2 separate regions of the Homo sapiens genome follow, and region 1 is linked to region 2. Evidence: fine-mapped expression QTL. A gene starts in region 2. The other region holds a variant in brackets. All regions are shown on one strand. Distances are from middle to middle. Region 1 overlaps PLEKHB1 (pleckstrin homology domain containing B1). Region 2 holds the start of COA4 (cytochrome c oxidase assembly factor 4 homolog).

Region 1 (10,622 bases), 220 kb after region 2:
CCGTTTCCAGACCACTGGGGTTGATGCAGGGATGGCCACAGGACCCAATTTAGACTGATGTCTACCAGGCCCAGGACTTTCAGTCATACTGTTAGAGGAAGAGAAATTCTCTTGGTTGGACTTGAACTCAGGAGGGCATTAGCCTGGAGCTGCTGAACATCACTGCAGCTTCCAAATGAGCCAGCCCTGCAGGTGTAAAGATGGAAACAAAGCAAAGTCTAAGTGACACTCTTTGAGCCCCTGGATCACACAGCTCTTGGACTTCTCAGTTATGTGGCTTAACCTTTTCCCTTTGGCTTAAATCAGTTTGAACAGGGAGTTTCTATCTGACAGCCCCAAGAAGCCTGATGCAGGATGATGGTGTTTCCTTTCCTGACCACCTGGTTTTCTATGAGAACAATTCATTGATTCAACTCTAGAAGGATGGGAACCTACTGGAAAAGACTCCAACATGAACAGGATTCTCAGAAAGCAGGCAGGACCTGGCTTGGATCATCCATCAGCTCAGACAACAGAGACTCCAAGGCAGTCCCTCCTCTTGAGCCCTCAGGAATGGTCAACTTCAACCAGCTACCTTAAGTGTAGGGAAAACAAAATCCAGAAAGGTTAAGTGACTTGCCCCAAATGACTCAGCTAATATGCTGTCACCAGTTCCAACTGATCTCAGAATCCACACTCTTTTTCACTAGACCAGTGAAGGCACTAGTAGCTGCTGGATCATGGAGAGGGAAACAGGGCCTTCTGGGGGAACAAAGCAAGCCACAGTTACTGCTAGAGCCAACCAAATCTTTATTAGTCTCGGCAGCAGAACTAATGGAGCCCCCATTTACAGGGGAGCTTTAGTGGGCTAGTCTGGCTACCAGGCAGGGATGTTAGCATTTCTATTGGTGATTGGGATAGAAAGGGGGAAGAGACTGGAAGGGAACCAAAGGGGGAGACTGGTGGACCACCTGAGGGCAGGCACAGATGGGGCTTCCTGGGCTGGTGTAGAGGTGGATCAGGCCCCAGAGGAGAACACTGCCATCTTATTCAGAATGAAGGATGAGACAAAGCCTGAGAGGGTGACAGTCACAGCTACAAAGAGAGGGCCGAGCTCCTGGTGTGAGAGGCATTTCTGGACGGAGGCAGCTTTCTAGGGCTGGAAGTCTCAAATAGAACTCACCTGTTCCCCAACCAGGGGTCCCCAGGTTCAGCTCAATTGTTATCATGGGTACCAGCCAGGAAGCTGTTTGTGGGAAGGATGGGACTTGACTCAGGAGTGTTTTAGGTATGGACATGTGTCAGTATTCACAAAACAGGCAATATATTCATTATAGATGCAATCATGAAACTTCCCTCCAGAGAAGGCTCACATCTCCCCTTTCACCTAGGAAGCTCCTTAGCTTGAAGGCCCACCACGGTCTGATCCCAGCCTCCACCCCAGCCCAAATGAACTCCCATTTAATTCCTTGGACATGCCATGACGTTCACGGCTCTGCATACTTGCCAATAACTGTTCTTCCAGCCTACCTGTCTTGCTCCCTGCCCCACCTGTCCTTGTCAAAGGACTGATAACTCTTCAGCTTTGTCAAGTCCTTGTTTACTCCTGTTCTCCCCACCAGGACTCGAGCTCCCTAAGGAGAGAGCAGAGAGCCCGATTCATGTTGTGTCTACAGCGCCTGGGGAACTCGAAGCCAAATGAAGTCGTATTTGCTGTGCCCTGTTGTGTTTAGAGGAAATGTATCCATAAATGTCTATAACAGATTTTGGGGGTGTCTAGTGGTAGATGTGAAGACTTCAAGCGATGTTTGTACCTGTGATGATAGCTTCTTCCCATGTGGGGATTAAGGGTAGGGAGTGGGGGGAATGGTCCAAACCCGGAAGGAGCTAATGGAGAGGATAGGGCCAAAGTGGGACAGGGCTTGGATGGTAGAGGATGGGGTCCAGGAGGAAGAGGAGTCTAGCAATCCAAGCGCAGGGGTCAGTGCTCCGAGTCCCAGGGCTCAGAACCAGCAGGGCGACCACATGAGCGAGCCCAGCGCCGCCCCAGTGGCGGCTCCCGCAAGCATGCCCATGGCCAGAGGGGCGCCGGCGCTGTAGCAGGGATCCTCCCGCACTATCACGTGCGTCACGCCAGGGCCTGCAGAGGGAGACAGCCCATGAGGATCAGCGACTTAGGAGGGAGTAGAGTGATCTTCGTACCCTTCCTGCATCACTCCAGCCCAACCCAGTGTAAGGCGCCGAACCCACTCTCCTGCTCCCCAGTCAAAGAACAGATCTAGACGCGGGAAGAGCTCCACCCTACGGCTCCCAGGCCTTGGATCGGCTACGGATGTCCCGGAACCTACGGGTCCGCTACGGCAGGCTAGGGCGGAGCAGCGAGGAAACCCTGAGATCGCTAAGCACAACCACCAGGCGCCTAACGATGGGCATTCCCAACCGCCAGGCCCCAGAGCGGGGAGGAGGCAGCATTCCCGCAGTAGCCACCAGGGGCCGCTACCGGCTCAGGAATGGGTATTGCCGACCGCAGGGCTGAGGAGCCATCCCAGAAGGGTGAGGTCAGCTCGAGACGAACGCTGGTTCCAGAGCTCTCCCAGTCTCAGGATGGAGAGGGGCTTGCGGAGAGTTCTGCCTGGGAAAATCCGTGCACGCTAAAAGGATGAAGCCTGGTCCGGACTTACGGACCGTGGGCTGGGCCTGGCGCTGAATCGGTGCTGGATCGAGGCAAGCCCCGGGGCACGCTGGAGACTTACCTGCGTAGGGCGGTCCGTAGTAGCTGCGGACATACGTGGCCTCGTGTGCATTGGGGGGCACCACCTCGTAGTAGTCTTGGTACGGGCTGTAGACGCGCACCTGGGGAATCCAACCATGTCAGGTGCCCAGGAACTCCCTGGCCCGGATTTGGTCCCCTACCCCCACGCCTGGCACAGGCCTCTCTGGGATCCATGGAGCCACCTCCCCAAGTTTAGAAATGGGCCTCCAGCCACTAGCAAGCTCTTGGAGAAAGGCCCTGCCCTCCCCACAAGGTCCACGGTCCTCTAAAACTTCTGCCCTACATCCAGCTCCCAGTGACACCCATTCTCCAACTCTGGCCTCCCACCTAGCTCAAAAAATTCTCTATGGCTCCCAATTTCTCCTTATAGGTAGTCTAATATTTGCTAGCAGCTCTACAATAATGCCACTTGAAAGACCCAGCTCTACTAGTCACAAGGAGGGGAACATGGCCAAGCCCCAGGCCCAGGAAATAAACAGGGGTTGGGGAGGAAGGAAGGGAAAGGAAGGATAGGGATGAGAAGTAACTAAAATACAGTTATGCGTCTTTTAAACAACAGGGATACAGTCTGAGAAATGCGTCCTTAGGCAATTTTAGTTATGTGAATATCATAGAGTGTACTTACAAACAAACCTAGGTGGCACACACCTAGAGTATATGGTATATCCTATTGCTCCAAGCCAACAAACCTGTTCAGCAGGCTACTGCCCTGAATACTGTAGGCAATTGTAACACAATGGTATTTGTTATCTAACTAATCATATATAAATGTAGAAAATGTAATGCATTGCCCTACGACATTATCATGGCTACAACATCACTAGGTGATAGGAAATTTTCAGCTCCATTATAATCTTATGGAACCACCTTTGTATATGTGGTCCATCATTGACCCAAAATTGTTAGGCTGCACTAGGCTGTAACGATTATTGAGCACCTACTATGTACCAGGTCCTGAAGGAAGTGATCACGTGTGTTACACCACCTCTAATCCTTAAAGCAGGTATTAGCTCCACATGACCATAGGGTTGGGGACTGAGGCTCAGAGAATGGTCAGTGTTCTCTCTGGAATGCATTCCCTGCCCTCCCCTCTCTCCCATTAGATTTCTGCCAACCCTTCAAAGCCTAGCTCAACGGTCACCCACTCCACTCCAGGAAGCTCTCCTGGTCTCAGGAAGAATTTTTTTTTTCCCTGAATTCTGTGGATCTTGCTTGTGCCTCTTGTTGCTATCCTTTCTCCTGGCCTTTCTTGCAGCCCAAATGTGAGCTGCTTGTAGACAAGGACTCTGATTTGTTTGTGTCACCAGCAGGGCCAAGTGCATACCAGGAACCAAGAACTATGTGCTGAATTAAATGGAAACTCCAAACCCCTCATTTTACCCATGGGGGAGCAGACCTGGAGAGGGGTCAGGATCCCCTTCTCTTCTGGATCTTTCCTCTTAGCCCCATTCCACCCTGTATCTCTCTCTAACTGGGATTCACACCTGAACAGTCCAGCTCCCCTTAGAAGTCCAGGTGTCTCAAACTCCACTCATCTCAAGATGATTGCAACATTTCTCCATCTGCTAAAACTGTTGCTTTTCCCATAAATCTTTTTTTTTTTTTTGAGACAGAGTTTCATTCTTGTTGTCCAGGCTGGAGTGCAATGGCATGGTATCAGCTCACTGCAACCTCCGCCTCCCGGGTTCAAGCGATTCTCCTGCCTCAGCCTCCCAGGTAACTGAGATTACAGGTTCCTGCCACCACGCCTGGCTAATTTTTCTGTATTTTTAGTAGAGACAGGGTTTCACCATGTTCGCCAGGCTGGTCTTGAACTCCTGACCTCAGGTGATCTGCCCGCCTTGGCCTCCCAAAGTACCCAGCCCCATAAATGCTTCTCTCAGTACATGCCATCACCATGCACTCAAATCAAGAAAGGCTAGGCACAGCGGCTTATGCCTGTAATCCCAGCACTTTGGGAGGCTGAGGCGGGAGGATTGCTTGAATGCAGGAGTTCAAGACCAGTCTGGGCAACATGGCAAGAACCTGTCTCTACAAAAAATTAAAAAATTAGCTGAGTGTGGTGATGCATGCCCGTGGGCCCAGCTATTTGGGAAACTGAGGCAGAAGGATCACTTGAGCCCAGGAGATCGAGGCTGCAGTGAGCAGTGTTTGCACCACTGCACTCCAGCCTGGGCAACAGAGGGAGATCCTGTCTCAAAAAAAGAAAGAAAGAAAGAAAAAGAAAGAAGGAAAGAAAGCAGGTTGTTGCCCTTGTCTTCACACATCTGCTTTCCACACATCAGCCACCAGGTCT[C/T]GTGATTTTATCTTCTAAATGTGTTCTTCTGCCCATTCTTTTGGCCAATTCCAAGATAATAGGCCACTGGTTTTAGCAACTTGGAAGTTGTGAGTGACCTTGAAAAAACTTTTCAGAGGAGTTGCTGAGTAGGAAAAGCCAAGCTATGGAGGGTTGAAGAAAGGCTGAGAGGTGAAGGATGCAATCCCCATGTCATGACATCTCTTTCAAGAAGTTTGGTGGTAAGGGGAAGGTCTCCAAGCACACCTTGTGATTTCAAATCTCCATGCCATTTTCCTTTGCTAGGGATATGCTTCTCACCTCATTCAACCTGTCTTTCAGACTCAACTCAAGCATCACTCTCCCTGAACCTCAGGTTCTGTTGGGGTCCCATCTGGACACTCACAGCCCTTGGATGTCCCTGCATCACAGCACCGATCATGCTGTCTTCACGTTGTTTCCCTGTGTCTCTCCCATCAGACTTGGAGATGCCTTTGAGGGCAGAGACTGGGTCTAATCAGATCTGACTGGAACATGGCAGGTACCTAATAAATGTTTATTGAATTCATTCCAGTGAATCAAATACAGGGCCAGACTGGAACTAAGGTTGCCCAACTCTGAGTTCAGTTTCAAGTCAGGGAAAACATATAGTCCCAAGACAATGCAAGAGGCTCAGACAAGCAATGTCGTAAGTCAGTGAACTCTACGGTGCTCCCTCCCCATCAGTGATCCAATAGGGATTTCTGGTAGGCAGTGCCAAGATCCAGGCTCCAGGCCCAAAAGGGGTTGGAGGGATCTAAGCTCTCAGGTCCAATTTTATTGGTGGGGAAGTTGAGGTCCACAGCCTCCACCTTGCCCTGCTGCTACACAGTGAGCCAGTGGCCTTGGGAGGCCCTGGAGAGGGTGGAGCACCCCATATCCCTCGAGGGCACCTGTTTTTACTCTCCACGTCTGGGAGGCCCAGAAGTAAACTCCTATAAGTCACCTGGCAACAAATAGGGACAGCCCAGAGACCCATGGGCAGAACCTGAGGGTTTGAACCTGCCTCTCCCTCTCCAGAGGCCCAGCTACTTTGTGGGTACAACCAGTGTTGACCAATCAGGGGGTCACATGCAAATGACTCCCCTTAGCTGAGCTGTTGTGTTATTAGGTTTACAGTCTGTTAAATCCTAGTTTTTGACATCCCCACTTTAAACAAACTTGCATCCTAGTTTGGGCATGGAAAATACCTCAGAACGATGGGCTGGGAGTCCCAGACCTGCCATTGATGAGTTGAGTGACCCTGATCAAGTTAGGTAACCTCTCCAAGCCACTGAGGATCTAACAGTGCCACATCTATACAATTTGGTGGCCCAGGCACTTCTAGGCTTAGTGATTCTGCACATCAGAGTCATCAGGAGACAATTTTTTTTTTTGAGATGGAGTCTTACTCTGTTGCCCAGGCTGGAGTGCAGTGGGGTGATCTTGGTTCACTGCAACCACGTCCGCCTCCTGAGTTCAAGCCATTCTCCTGCCTCAGCCTCCTGAGTATCTGAGATTACACCATGTCTTGCTAATTTTTGTACTTTTAGTAGAGATGGGGTTTCACCATGTTGGCTAGGCAGGTCTTGAACTCCTGACCTTGCAACCTGCCCGCCTCAGCCTCCCAAAGTTCTGGGATTATAGGTGTCAGCCACCAGGCCTGGCCAGGAGACAGGTTTAAACTACAGGTTTCCTAGGCCTAGGCCCCATGCCAGATTAAAACATCCAGAGGTGGAACATGAATACTTGTTATTAGTGCTTGTAAGTTCCTAAACAATCCTGATACATAGCCACACTGAGCACCACTGTGTAAGATGAGCTCAGAGTTGACTATAAGATCACAGGTACTCTCACTCAAGCCCCCTCCTGCCACCCACCCCATGCCAGGCCCTGTGCTGAGTTCTGGGGACAGAGAAAAGATTCAGGCCAGATCCTGCCTTCAAGAAACATTGAGGGTGAGGGGAGACAGACCTAGACTAAATTAGACTATGTAGTAGTATTGCTATAAAGGAAGTTTTTCACTCCCTCCTTCCTTCCTTTGCTCACTCAGTGAACATTCCCTGAGCCCCACTGTGTAAGAAAGGTCAGCATAGACTCCCCATCATCGAGCACTAATTGAGCATGTGCCATTTACCTAGCCTTGTGCCAAGTTCCATAGAGGCAGCGCAATCAGGCCTCATTCTTGCCTTGGAGGAAGTTCTAGGCCTCATGGAAGACTACACAGACAGGAATAAACCAGCTCTGAAACCAGGCAGAATGAAGAAAGCACTAAGCCTTGGTGCCGCTAGGCTGAGGGAGGGAATGACGATGCCTAGTGGTCTAGGAAGTCCCCACTGAGTAGGTGGCAGGCAGCCTTTGAGGTGGGCCTTACAGGATGAGCATCAGTTTGTCAGGTGAATGAGGAAACTGAGGTCTTGTCAGCAGAGGGAACAGCATGTGCGAAGGCTGGCAGAGGGAAAAGGTCTGGTGTGGCTGGGGACAGAGGGTACAGCAGAGCAGCTGGTTTGTGTCCTGTGGGTGATAGGGAGCCATGGAATGTTTGTCACAGGGAAGGGATGGACTGGGCCTGGTTTTGGAGGCTCATCCTGGTGGCCAGTATGGAGGCAGGGAGGGCCGAGCCAGCACTTACCCAGATCCGCCTCTCAACCTTACAGGGGCTCCACGAGCGGGTCACACACCTGACCTTGGAGCAAACCCGGCGGCTCCTGGGAGGGACGGTGGCTCCAGCTGGGGCCTGCTCAAGCCACAGAAACCCAAGAAGGAGGAGGGAGGGAGGGGGTGTCAGAGGCCCTCTACACCTAAAGAGACTCAAGAGCTCTTTCCAGACCCTACCAGAGCCCTCCGCCAGCTGGGCTGTGGCAGGGAGCATCCTCTTTCTCCTCAGCTCATGGTAACGGGGGAGGCTCAGAGAATGCTGATGACTGCCAAAGTTACGCAGAAAAGAAGGACAAGTAGTCTCTTTCCAGAATTAGCCCACCCTCCCCTATTTCATCCTGCTGGGGTTCCCAGTCTCCAGGGAGGACAGGGCGACTCCCTTCTGTCCTCTAGCCCACCTGGTCCGCTTCACCCCAGCCTCGTCCCTAGCTGTGCCCCCAGGCCCTGTGTTCCCAGTAAAGCTGGTGTTAGGGGCTCCTGGAGCCTCCACCTGGAGTGAGGTATGAACTCCAGCATGTCGGAGGACAAAGGGCAGGTCATTCCCACACAGGCTACAGAGAGAAGCCCATAAACAGAGGTGAACACACAAAGATAGGTAGACACAGGCACAAATACACCCCGACTCTAGTAAGCCCGGGCACAGAAGGACGTGTATATGTGGAGTAGTGGGAGGTAGAATAGAGGCCAGGGCAGAGAGAAGGGTCAGCAGAGCCACAGGAGATGGACAGGCAGAGAAGGACGAGGCCGCTTCATAGAGTCACAGAGTGCAGACAGTCACCCTTGCCTCCTTCCCTCCGCCTCTCTTTGGTGGAACTGACTTGCCCCACATAAAGAGGCTTTGGAGCTCAGAGCCAGGGTAGCCTGACCTGGGTCCCTCCACCCTGCAGACTACTGCTGTAGCCTCCTTACTCCCAGCTTTCTCCAATTCACCCGCCACTTGGAAGCCTGAGTCTGCTCCCCAAAATCTGACCACAGCCCTCGCTGCTGAATGCCCTTTATTGCTCCCTACAGGCCTCAGGGAAAGTCCATTTCTTCCAACTGGACTTTGAGGCCCATCATGAGCTGGCCCCGATGACCTCAGAGGTCATCTCTCCTGTTTCATTCGCCTCATGAATTGCTCTCCAGCCAGGCAGACTCTGGGCCCTTAGACGCATGCATATGTGCATAAGCACTTGTGCACACACACATGTGCACACATCACTTCTCTGTCTCTGCTCATGCAGCTACTTCTGCAGATAACGCCCTCCTCTCAAAATCTCACTGACCTAGGTTCCATGGTAGGCTTTTCCACTGACTTAAGAGTATAAGCTTTGGACAAGTCACCTCCCCTCTCTGAACCTCGGCTTCCTTATCTGTAAAATGGGACTAATAATACCAACCCCCACCCAGCTGCCCTGCCAGGGTTGTTGGAAGATGAAATGATGTCACTGCTGCCAGGGGCTTAGCATGATGCCTGGCACTCAGGACGTGGATGCCTGAGGAGGTTTCTAAATGCATCCAGGTCTCCCCTGCTACTTCCCAACGGACTTTCTCTATAGGTGAGAGGGGGCTCCATTGTGCCATACAGAGAAAGAGCAAGCACAGATTCTGGAGTCAGGCAGATGGGGGTGGAGGCCAAGCTGGGCTTTGGGCGGCTCTTCAAACCGCCACTTCCATCAGTCACAAGCTCTGTTGACTCCATCTCCTAAATATGTCCTGTACTCATCAGCCTGTCTCGGCCAACAAGGCCTTAATCCAGATCTCCAGTCTGTTGCCCGGACACTGTCCCAGCCTCCTAAGTGGCCTCTGGGTGTCTGCAGTTACCCTCTATAATCCATTCCCTACCTACCAGCCAGACTATCTTTTTTTTTTTCCTTTTTTCTACAACAAAATTTCATAAACTGACAGACTACCCCCTTTTTTTTACATGCCCCAACGTTACAACAATTATCTTTTTAAAAATATAAATTGAACCTGATCTGATCATGCCATCCCTCTGTTCAAAAACTTGTCATGGCTCCCTGGTGCTCTTAGCAGAAACCAACATCCTTCATACAGCCCACAAGACCTGGTCGTGCCAACCCTCCTTCCCTCCTTACCCACTCACTCCCTAAGCACCAGCCACCCCAGCTGTCCTTCTGTTCCTCAACTTGCCAAATGTCTTAACCTCTCTCAGAGCCTTGGCACATGCTGATCCCTCTGCCTGGAATGCCGTGCCCTTTACCCGATCCCCACACCTTTCACCCAGTCAATTTCTGTTTATCCTTCAGTCCTCGGTTTAAGCCTTGCCTGAACTACCACCTGGATGAAAGGGCCAGACACTGCAAATCTCTGTCAGAGCTGTTATTACTATTGAAATGGAATAATTAATTAGTTGTTCCATGTCTGGCTTCTCATTAGGCTGAGTCCAGGTGGGCAGAGCCCATATCTCCTTGGTTCACCTCTGATCCCTGGCACTTGGCACACCACCTGGCCCATAGTAGCAGCTCAGTAAATATTTGTTGTGCGGATGAATGAGCTTCAGTCTTATCATCTGCAGAGAGAGAACAATAACCCCAACTTCACAGGACTGTTGTGAGGAGCAGCTGGAATGATACCTGCACCACACCTGGCACATAATAGTTGCTCGATAAAAGACAGTTCCTTCTCCCCAGCTCATGTGCCACTCCCTCCAGCAAATCTCCATGGAGGCTTCTCTCTCTCCTCTGAGCACCAGTTGGCTCTCCCTTATCCTTTCCCCGAACACTTGGGACTCAGGCATCAGAGTTTGCAGAAACCTATCCACATAAGACTGAGAACTTCTGGCAGGTGGAGACCGAGTCTGAGTCACTCATGATTCCATGGCACATGGAGGTGGTGGGGAAAGGGGGAGAGAACGGGAGACTCACCGGGGTGGAGTTTGCCTCCAGCAGTGCTGTCTTCCATGCTCTGCAAAGCAAA
Region 2 (10,622 bases):
AGCCTGGACAACAAGAGCAAAGCTCCATCTCAAAAAAAAATACAAAAAATTAGCCGTGCATGGTAGCACGCGCCTGTAGTCCTAGCTACTTGGGAGGCTGAGGCTGGAGAATTGCTTGAACCCAGGAGGCAGAGGTTGCAGTGAGCCAAGATTGCACCACTGCACTCCAGCCTGGGCAACAGAGTGAGACTCCATCTCAAAAACAAACAAACAAACAAACAAAAAAACTCCTTGGTTGTTGAAGGTAGCTTGGTAATTTAAAACAACAACAACAACAACAACATTAAGTTTGTTGCTTTGTAAAGACTTGATAATGTTTTTTTAAAACTGTTTTAGGCCGGGGGCAGTGGCTCACACCTGTAACCCCAGCACTTTGGGAGGCCAAGGCGGGCGGATCACTTGAGCTCAGGAGTTCAAGACCAGCCTGGCCAACATGGTGAAACCCTGTCTCTACTAAAAATACAAAAATTAGCTGGGCATGGTAGTAGTCCCAGCTGTAGTCCCAGCTATTCAGGAGGCTGAGGCACAAGAATCCCTTGAACCTAGGACTGGAGGTTGCAGTGAGCTGAGATCATGCCACTGCATTCCAGCCTAGGTGACAGAGCTAGATTCTGTTTAAAAAATACTGCTTTAATAGTATGTATCGGCAAGAAAAATGCAAAATATTAGGGAAAAGATCTAAAAAAATATAAACCCCAGTTGATGTTTTGCTCTTAGATTGCTTTTTTAGCCTAAGTAAAGATTTGCCTTGCTTTAAAGAAACTGTGCCTTTTGGTTACAGTTTATTACAAGATAGCCAAGGTCCTTGTAATAATAAGTGGACTAATAAAGAGAAGGTGAATTTTAATGTATGTTTATATATTTTAGTTAAAATAAAATGTAGGTCTTTTGTGTATTTTTATTTTATTTATTTATTTATTTAGAGATGGAGTTTCGCTCTTGTTGCCCAGGCTGGAGTGCAATGGCACGATCTCCACTCACTGCAACCTCCACCTGCTGGGTTTAAGCGATTCTCCTGCCTCAGCCTTCCGAGTAGCTGGGATTACAGGCATGCACCACCACGCCCAGGTAATTTTTTGTATTTTTAGTAGAAACAGGGCTTCACCATGTTAGCCAGGCTGGTCTCAAACTCTTGACCTCAGGTGATCCGCCCGCCACAGCCTCCTAAAGTGCTAGGATCACAGGCGTGAGCTGCTGTGCCTGGCTTTTTTTTTTTTTTTTTTTTTTTTTTTTTTCGAGACAGAGTCTTGCTCAGTCATCCAAGCTGGAATGCGGTGGCACTATCTGGTCTCACTGCAAGCCCCGCCTCCCGGGTTCACTCCATTCTCCTGCCTCAGGCTCCCGAGTAGCTGGGACTACAGGGGCCCACCACCACATCCGGCTAATTTTTTGTATTTTTTTTTAGTAGAGCCACCGCACCTGGCTTTTTTTTTTTTTTTTAACTGAGACAGGGTTTTGCTCTGTCTCTCAGGCTGAAGTACAGTGGCACAATCCTAGCTCAAGCAGTTAGAATAGGATTTTTGAACATAATTAAGCACAATAAAATAGGTAAAATAAAATACAGTATTTTCCTTGAATTTTTATGTTAAGTATACATATGTATATGTGTGTGTGTATATATATATATTTGTGTATTTGTGTGTGTGTTTCTTTTTTTAGAGCCAGGGTCTCACTTTCTGGTCCAGGGTAGGAGACCACGCAGCATGATCACGGCTACCCTTGTCCAGGGTAGGAGGTCCAGTAGCATAATCACAGCTCACTGCAGCCTTGACTTGCTGGGCTTGAGCAATCCTCCCACCTCTGCCTCTTGAGTAGCTGGGACTACAGACACCCAACACCATGCCCAGCTAGTTTTATTTGCTGTAGACACGAGGTCTCCCTATGTCTCCCAGGCTGGTCTCAAGCAATCCTCCGCCTTGGCCTCCCAGAATGGTGGATGACAGGTATGAGCCCCCACGTCTGGCCTTATTTTTAAGATGATTGGCAAGTCACAGCACTATAAAGTCCATCCTTTATTCCACTGATATAAACAATAGTCTTTTTTTTTTTAATGATGGGGTCTCACTCTGTCACCCAGGCAAAAGTGCAATGGTTCGATCATAACTCACTGCAGCCTCAACCTCCCGGGCTCAAGAGATCCTCCTATTGCAGCCTCCCAAGTAGCTGGGACTACATGCGCATGCCACTATGCCTGACTAATTTTTTTTGTTTTTTATAGAGATGGGGAGGGGGTCTCACTTTGTTGCCCAGGCTGGTCTCGAACTCCTGAGCTCAAGTGATCCTCCTGCCTCAGCTTCCCAAAGTGCTAGGATTACAGGTGTGAGCCACTGTGCCTGGCCAAAACTTTATTTCTCATAGAAATACAATATATCAGCAGCATTTGAAATGAAAGATAATCAGCAAAACAAAACTTTCTTACAGAATTTAGAAGGAAGGTTGATTTGTTTTAGAATGGTACCACCTCGGTTACAATTTGAAAAGAATCCTGTGAATGATATAAGACTGTTGTTCAAAAGAAAAATTGATAAGACTTGGGAGCTTCCTGGATATGGCAGGGTCAAGTAACTAGGTTTTTCACTCTGATGCCTAGAAAAATGATGGTAACTTAAGAAATGAGAAAAATCAGGAAAGAGAACTCACTTGACAACAAATGTACTTAGCTTGGTTTTGGACTTCAGTAAGTCCAGTAACTTAAGGTGACAGTGAGACCTTTAAGCAGAAATATCTAGCAAACAACTGATCAATCTCTGCTTGAACATGGAGAAGTCAGGGCTGGGGCTGTAGATCTAGAAATTATCATCAAGAAAGTCCCAGTTGAAGCTGCAGAAGTGCTTAGAATACAATAGCACAGGGTAAGTGACTAATTAAGATGCATCAACAATGTCTCCATGAATAAGTCTGTGGCTTTCAAATGGAAAATCAATCTGAAGGCCTTCCCTTGGAATGGAGGAGTTGGGGTGTTGGCCATACAGTACAGACTGGTCAAGCATGTTTGCAGACTATTATGTAAGGAGGCTGGGCCAGGAGAAAGTAGGAAGCTTTCTTTTAAGGGTATTAATCCTTCTCCTTTAAAGTCACAGCATATATAATTCATGGGTATTACCTGGGGGATGACAGCTCAGCCAGGCCTCCCCTTCATCCTTCCTACGAAGAAAGACAAAAGCCTAATTAGGCTTACCCAAAGTTGAATAGGATCCCATAGTTACAAGGGAAGAAAGAAGGTCATGTAACCTCCAGCTTGGTCATAGTACTTAGACATGAGATAGTCCAACCTCTCATCGAGTATAGATCATTCTAAGACAGACAAACTTTATTTGTTCAAGAAATATTTGTGGATTAACTATTTAATGAATAGATATCTGTTGGTTAAATTAATGCTCATCCATCAACAGTGAGCTCACTTTGAAAAATCAAGGTTATTTAATTATTTATCAGGATTATTGTAAACCAAGCCCTGTGCTAAGCACTTTCCATACACAATCATTAACCCTCACAATAACCAAACAAGATTCCTTTTATTATTTTAGCACCTGCCCAATCATCCAAATCCTGATCTCTTCACCCTAGCACTTTTAGGGTATAATGGAAAGGGTCTATGCATTTAAGACAGAAAGATCTAGGTTGACAGCAACCCTCTATCATTTGACGAGATGCATGATCTTGGGCAAATTAAGCCTTCTGATTCTGGTGCTGTATTTTCTCATAGGTAGCTAGTGGCACTTCATGTTATTGTTCTTTATTACTTATCACATTCTGTGTACTAGCAACTAGTCTGTATTTTAGCCCACCTAAATTAAGTAAGGTATAAATTTAGTAAGGTGTAAATTTCTTAAATGCAGAAGGCTATGTTTCATTCATCTTCACCATTGTTTCAATTTGAAAAACCCTTATTAGTAGTAGCAGTTGCCAAATATAGCACTGCTATATTCATCCTGAAGCCTAGAGAAATAACTGGAATAGTATAAGATCAATAAATGTTAGATGAATGAATAGTTTGCTGTGTATTCCTAATTAAGACGTCAGCTTTTCTTCTTTTTTGAGATGAGTATCGCTCTGTCACCCAGGCTGGAGTGCAGTGGTGCAATCTCGGCTCACTGCAACCTCCACCTCCTGGGTTCAACCGATTCTCCTGCCTCAGCCTCCCGAGTAGCTGGGATTATAGGCGCCCACCACCAAGCCCGACTAATTTCTGTATTTTTAGTAGAGACGGAGTTTCACCATGTTGGTCAGGCTGGTCTCGAACTTCTGACCTCAACTGATCCACCAATCTCAGTTTTCCAAAGTGCTGGGATTACAGGCATGAGCCACTGCGCCTGGCCTGGATGTCAGCTTCTTGAAGAGCAGGAACCATCACTTATATTTAGAGTATACATCTGAGCTCCACCAAGCATCCAGTATGGGGCCTGGACACAGTATTAGTTTCCTTAATAGTATCGTCCAGTATGCCTAATATAGCATTAGGGGCCTAGGAGAATACAAAGGTTCCATCACATACACAAAGTGGTGGTGAGTACAGAGACTTCTGGAAGTAACTGACGACTAATCAATATTTGCTAAATGACTGCTTGGCCAAAAGCCTTCCTGCCTCCCAGTATCCCTGTCTTTCTCCAACTCACTGATACTAGTTCTGACGCGGGGATCACACAGCTCATGTGCTCCCTTGGCCTAGGGATAGCTTTTCAGAGAATGACCATACGGGTTTGATACTTCTTTTTCCGGACCCTGTTCCCTCCATATCCCTCGACAATTGACGAAGTAACCCCTATTGATATCCTGGACCAGGCATGGCTCTCCTTGACGCAAAGCAACATCCACTACCCGCCTCCTCTGACTCTGTTCTGGGCCTGGATTCACCTGAGGGCTTGCGCCCAGTCGCTCTGAATCCTCAAAGGCGCCGCCATCTCGACCCCGCCTCCACCAGCCCACCTCTTCCGCCCCTTCCCGGAAGTGAGTCCCCGAGAAGCGTGCGGCGAGGACAGAGGTGGGCTCAACACCAAGAGGCCACCAATGAAAACGTGACTTTTTCACATTCCCCGCCCCTTCCGTGTGCACGCTCCCCACGAGGGGCTGGTTCCTGAAAGGATGTACAGAGGATCCCCAACCGCCTGCGAAACCCAAGCCGCCGCGTAGGAGCGTGCGTTCGGGCCCTCTTCTCCCACCTGTTCGGTGAGCATCGCGTACCGCGTTCTTCAGGAGGCGTTGCGGGCACAACGGGGCTGCGATCAGCGGCCGCGCGCGCGCATGCGTCCTCAAAGTTCAAAGTCCTCGATACGCCTGAGGCGCCTCAGGCCTCGTGGCTGCCAGCATTTTTCTGCTTTAAGATCCTTTCCATGACTTCCTTGTTTAGGCCAGCCTCCACGATCCAGCTGCCAACCATCTAGCCTACCCTGATCTCTGAGCAGGGGTCGTCGTCATTTTACTCCAGAGGAGACTGAAGCCAAAAGGTGGTGAGAGGAGAGTACAGCAGCATTTACTGAGTCCTATAGTAGCCCAAGCGCTTTTCATTCGTTATATTAATCTTCATTCTAATTGTGCGAATTAAATATTATTAATGGGAAAACTAAAATGAAAAAGATTACATAGTAAGGCGTAGTGCTGGGATTTGAACACGGATCTCTTGGTTTAGGATCAAGGCACTTTCTATTCCACTGTTCTTTCTCTAAATTATTTGCTCCTGGCCCTATTTAAAGAGTTAACAGTGTATTTAGGAAGAGAAAACTATCATTTATTGAACTCTTTAGACATACCAGCCTCCTTACAAACCTTACCTTTTTTTTTTTCTTTTTTTTTTTTTTTGAGACAGGGTCTCCCGCTGTAACCCAGGCTGGAATGCAGTGGCGTGATCACGGCTCACAGTGTTGCCCAGGCTGGGCGCAAACCATCCTCCCGCCTCAGCCTCCCAGTGTTGGGATTACAGGCGTGAGCCATGGCACCCGGCTTCATCTCTGTGCTTCCAGAGAGGTTATTAAATGATGTGTCCAAGGGCACCAAATGAGGCAGTGACAAAGCTAGGTCCAAGTCTGTTTCAAAGCCCATTTTCTCCCTCTTGCTTAAGTTATACCGCCTCCAAGGCAAATGAGTTGTGTAAAGTGCCTAACTCCCTCTTGTGATTCCCCATTGCCCTCAGAATAAAAAGTCTTAAACTCCCTACTATGTCCTACAAAGCCTTGTGATGATCACTTACTTATATCGCCAGTTTAATATTGTCTTATTCTCACACTGTATTCTCCCATCACTGAACTTTTTTTTTTTTTTGCTCTCATGTGTCAGATTCTATCTCAACCACCTGCTCTTCCATTGACCAAAAATAGTTTTCCCATCTCTGGCTAACTTCTGTTCCATCTGTCAAGTTTCAGCTTGGAAATCACTTCCTCTAGGAAGCCTTCCCTGCCTATTCCTGCCCTTGTCTGGATTAGGCATCCCTCCACTGTGGTCCCAGTCTTTGCTATCTGTACACTGTGTAGTAAACTGCCCTGTTTCCTTGTCTAGGTTGTAAACTCCATGAAGCCAGGAACTTAACTGACTTAGACAGTCTTGAATCCTCAGCACTAGCATAGTGCCTGGTACATGATAGGTACTTAATCATTTGTTGAGTGAATGAGAGACACAGTTAAGGCAATAAGGAGTCCTAGTTGCTTTACAGCCCATCATGGTGAAATTTTTGCAAAGGCTGAAGTCATTTCTCTTCAAACCTTAAGTTCCTTCTGTATGCTGCTTTCTGCTGAGTGTTCTGATGCAGACGGGCAAGACAGTTTGGGCAAATAAATACACCTCACATTTTTGTATAGTTTACAAAGCCATCTCACCTTATAGACCCAGAGGCCAGGTTTCTGCATACTGTATGCTACAGCCACAGTGAACTCTTTCCATCCTTCCCATGTGTCAAAACCTACCCATATTTGGGCACTCTTTCACTTTGTTTGTTTGTTTGTTTTGGAGATGGAGTCTCACTCTGTCACCCAGGCTGGAGTGCAGTGGCACGATCTTTGGCTCACTACAACCTCCGCCCCTTGGGTTAAAGCGATTCTCCTGCCTGAGCCTCCCGAGTAGCTGGGATTACAGGTGCCTGCCATCACGCCCGCCTAATTTTTGTATTTTTAGTAGAGACGGGGTTTCATCATCCCGGCCAGGCTGGTCTTGAACTTCTGACCTTATGATCCATCTGCCTCGGGCTCCCAAATTGCTGGGATTACATGTGTGAGCCACTGCACCCAGCCTCTTTCACTTTTTAAACTTTGTTCTTCAGCATAGAATAAGGCTAGTAGGATAAAAGAAGAAAGGTTATTTATTTGAAACAGGGTCTCACTATGTCACCTAAGCTGGAGTACAGTGGCACCATCATAGCTCACTGCAGCCTTTGAACTCCTGGGCTCAAAGGATTCTCCCTCTTCAGCCTCTTGAGTACCTGGGACTACAAGTGTGTGCCACTATGCCCAGCTAATTTTTACATTTTTTTTCTTTTTTCTTTTTTTTTGAGATGGAGTTTTGCTCTTATTGCCCAGGCTGGAGTGCAATGGTGTGATCTCGGCTCTCCGCAACCTCCGCCTCCCGAGTTCAACCTCGGCTCTCCTGCTTCAGCCTCCTGAGTAGCTGGCATTACAGGCATATGCCACCACACCTTGCTAATTTTGTATTTTTAGTAGAGACGGGTTTCTCCATGTTGGTCAGGCTGATCTTGATCTCCCGACCTCAGGTGATCCGACTGCCTCAGTCTCCCAAAGTGCTGGGATTATAGGCATGAGCCACCGTATCCAGCCATTTTTAAATTTTTTTGTAGAGATGAGGTCTTGCTATTACCCCTGCTGGTCTCAAATTCCTGGGCTCAAGGGATCTTCCTGCCTCAGCCTCCCATAATGCTAGGATTACAGGTGTGAGCCATCGTACCTAGCTGAAAGTTTAGTTCTTTTTAGGTAGATCAGAGATAGCTTATCTAAAAAGATGACATTTCACCTAATTCATATTCCAATAGCAAAATCCACTGAGCTTATTGAATGTTATGTCAAGCATTCTCACAGTTTATCTCATTCAGTTCAAACCACTTTTCAGGCCTGCTCTCAGCCAGGCCTAGTGCTGGGGGCACAAAGGTAAATCAAGACGAACATCAGCCGGGCACAGTTGGCTCACACCTGTAATCCCAGCATTTTGGGTGGCTAAGGCAGGAGGATCACTTGAGCCCAGGAGTTTGAGACCATGCTGAGCAACATGGAAAAACCTTGTCTCTATTAAAGAATCAAAAAAATTAGCTGAGTGGTGATGCACACCTGTAGTCCCAGCTACTCTGGCCAGGGAGGGACTGAGGGGGAAGGATTGCTTGATCCCTAAAGATGGAGGCTACAGTGAGCCTGGGCAACAAAGCAAGACACCCTCAAAAAAAAAAAAAAAAAAACAAGCATCTGTCTTCAAGCTTAGAGTCTCCCACGGGAGACAGACACATTAAACAGGCTAAATGGTGCAGTCTGGTCAGTGCTATTTATAATTTAGGAACCTTACATATTATATCCCTACTCTAACCTGTTAATGTTCTATAGACTCCCCATCCCCAGGATGTCAACCTCAGTCCCTCAAGGCCATACCTGGACCCAACGGGTGAAGAAAGACGATGAGGAGGAGGACCCGCTGGACCAGCTGATCTCCCGCTCTGGCTGTGCTGCCTCCCACTTTGCAGTGCAGGAGTGCATGGCCCAGCACCAGGACTGGCGGCAATGCCAGCCACAGGTGCAGGCGTTCAAGGATTGCATGAGTGAACAGCAGGCGAGGCGGCAAGAGGAGCTGCAGAGGAGGCAAGAACAAGCCGGTGCCCACCACTGAGACCCCAAACCACCTATCCCCAGTAGATGGCCCTGCCAAGACCAGCACCCAGCAAGATTATAGAGGAAGAAATCCTAAATGCTGGTGTGGGAGGTCTAAAACATGGGGAGAGTTTTTGGATCTGGAGTTGAGAGCCATGGGTTTGGACATGACTGGCACAAACAGCTGTCATATGTTCATGGTCAGATGTCATACATTCTCAGCTGTCTTGTTCCACCAGTATTTACCAGGAAAACAAAGAATGTGTTAAGGGATGCTCCCCCACCCCACATCTTAAGTCAGTGTGCCAAGTACTGAGATGATTTTAGGGACATTTTATTTTAAATTAAATTTACAATCTAATGGTAAATTGATTACCTAATTAGTGCCTTTCTCTTTCATCACTTGTTCTGGATGTTTCAATCAGTTTAGTGGAAGGAAAAATAAATGGGGAAACTTTTTATTCAAATATGTTTTTCTTTTGTTTTTTTGAGACAGGGTCTCTGTTGCCCAGGCTGGAGTGTGGTGGTGGAGTCAGGGCTCACTGCATCCTCAGTGGGCTCAGGCCATCCTCCCACCTCAGCCTCTCAAGTAGCTGGAACCACAGGTGTGTGCATCACCACACCCAGCTAATTATTCAAACATTGAGTACCTATTAAATGCCAGATTCTGTTGAATTAACAGATACCAAGTCTGGCTTTAACTTGCTCCCAACCCAACAAACACAAAGTTGGGCTAACATTTTTAGAGTATATTTAACACTAAAATACAGATTTTCAGCTTTTGAAAAGGGGAGAAGATGTCAACATTGATTTTTATTCCCTCTTAACAATTTGCTGGAGCTGAATAATAACTCCCCCTTTAAGTAGGTTGTGTTTTCCCATTCAAAACAGTTGCATATCATTTCTCATTTTTCTTCAACAAAACGACTCTTCCATTCTATTCTTTTTTTTTTTTTTGAAATGGAGTCTTGCTCTGTTGCCCAGGCTGGCGTGCAGTAGCGCAGTCTCGGCTCACTGCAACCTCTGCCTCCCAAATTCAAGTGATCCCCCTGCCTCAGCCTCCCAAGTAGCTGGGACTACAGGCAAGCACCACCACACCCGGCTAATTTTTGTATTTTTAGTAGAGAATGGGGTTTCACCATGTTGGCCAGGCTGGTCTCAAACTCCTGACCTCAAGTGATCCACCCTCCTCAGCCTCCCAAAGTGCTGGGATTAAAGGCGTGAGCCACCACACCCAGACAATAACAAATATTTCTTCAGGATCTATTAGAAGCCCAAATCTGAGGTATAGTAGGCCTTAAAATTTACTTTGAACCTTCATGCCAGTATTTGGGGAAGAAGTAAAGAGAAAAGGGGAGAAGGTAGGAGTTTAAAGAACAATCCTATTTCTGGCTGAAGGGGATAACCAGCAAATTATAAAGACAAATCGCTATGTGTGTGTGCTCAGTGCTGATTCATCAAAGGAAACAAGCAGTGTGCACTGGAGTTTTCAGCAAGAATCTCAAAGAAGAGAAGAGATTAGTTGAGTTGAACTTTTAAAGCTGAAGTAGGCCAGGCATGGTGGCTCACTTGAGGTCGGGAGTTCAAGACCAGGCTGGCCAACATGGCAAAACCCCATCTCTGCTAAAAATACAAAAAAATTAGCCAGGCATGGTGGCGCATGCTGAGTGTAATCCCAGCTACTTGGGAGGCTGAGGCAGGAGAATCACTTGAACCTGGGAGGTGGAGATGGCAGTGAGCCAAGATCGCACCATTGCATTCTAGCCTGGGTGATGGAGTAAGACGGTCTCAATAAATAAATAGATAATAAAGATGAAGTAGACATCACCTATT

What was found. PIP is the estimated chance that this variant, and not a neighbour inherited with it, causes the effect.
Region 1: its variant is fine-mapped to the expression of COA4 in whole blood (TOPMed, PIP above 0.99).

The regions. Positions count from the first base shown.
Region 1 is chr11:73,652,963-73,663,584 of GRCh38, reverse strand. PLEKHB1 (pleckstrin homology domain containing B1) reads right to left here. Exons shown (of 8, transcript NM_021200.3): 5 at 10,571-10,610; 6 at 7,678-7,782; 7 at 2,733-2,832; 8 at 766-2,119. The coding sequence ends at 1,983. Among named protein-coding and RNA genes, the nearest start is that of PLEKHB1, 12 kb to the right of the region's middle. RefSeq lists enhancers at 1,617-2,459, 2,460-3,304 and a silencer at 2,383-2,554. The variant C/T (reference allele first, on the strand shown) is at 5,049.
Region 2 is chr11:73,871,301-73,881,922 of GRCh38, reverse strand. COA4 (cytochrome c oxidase assembly factor 4 homolog) reads left to right here and starts at 5,077. Exons shown (of 2, transcript NM_016565.3): 1 at 5,077-5,166; 2 at 8,529-9,256. The coding sequence starts at 8,545. The coding sequence ends at 8,808. PAAF1 (proteasomal ATPase associated factor 1) reads right to left here and starts at 4,924. Exons shown (of 12, transcript NM_025155.3): 1 at 4,855-4,924; 2 at 3,104-3,144. The coding sequence starts at 4,901. RefSeq lists enhancers at 4,687-4,756, 4,777-4,826.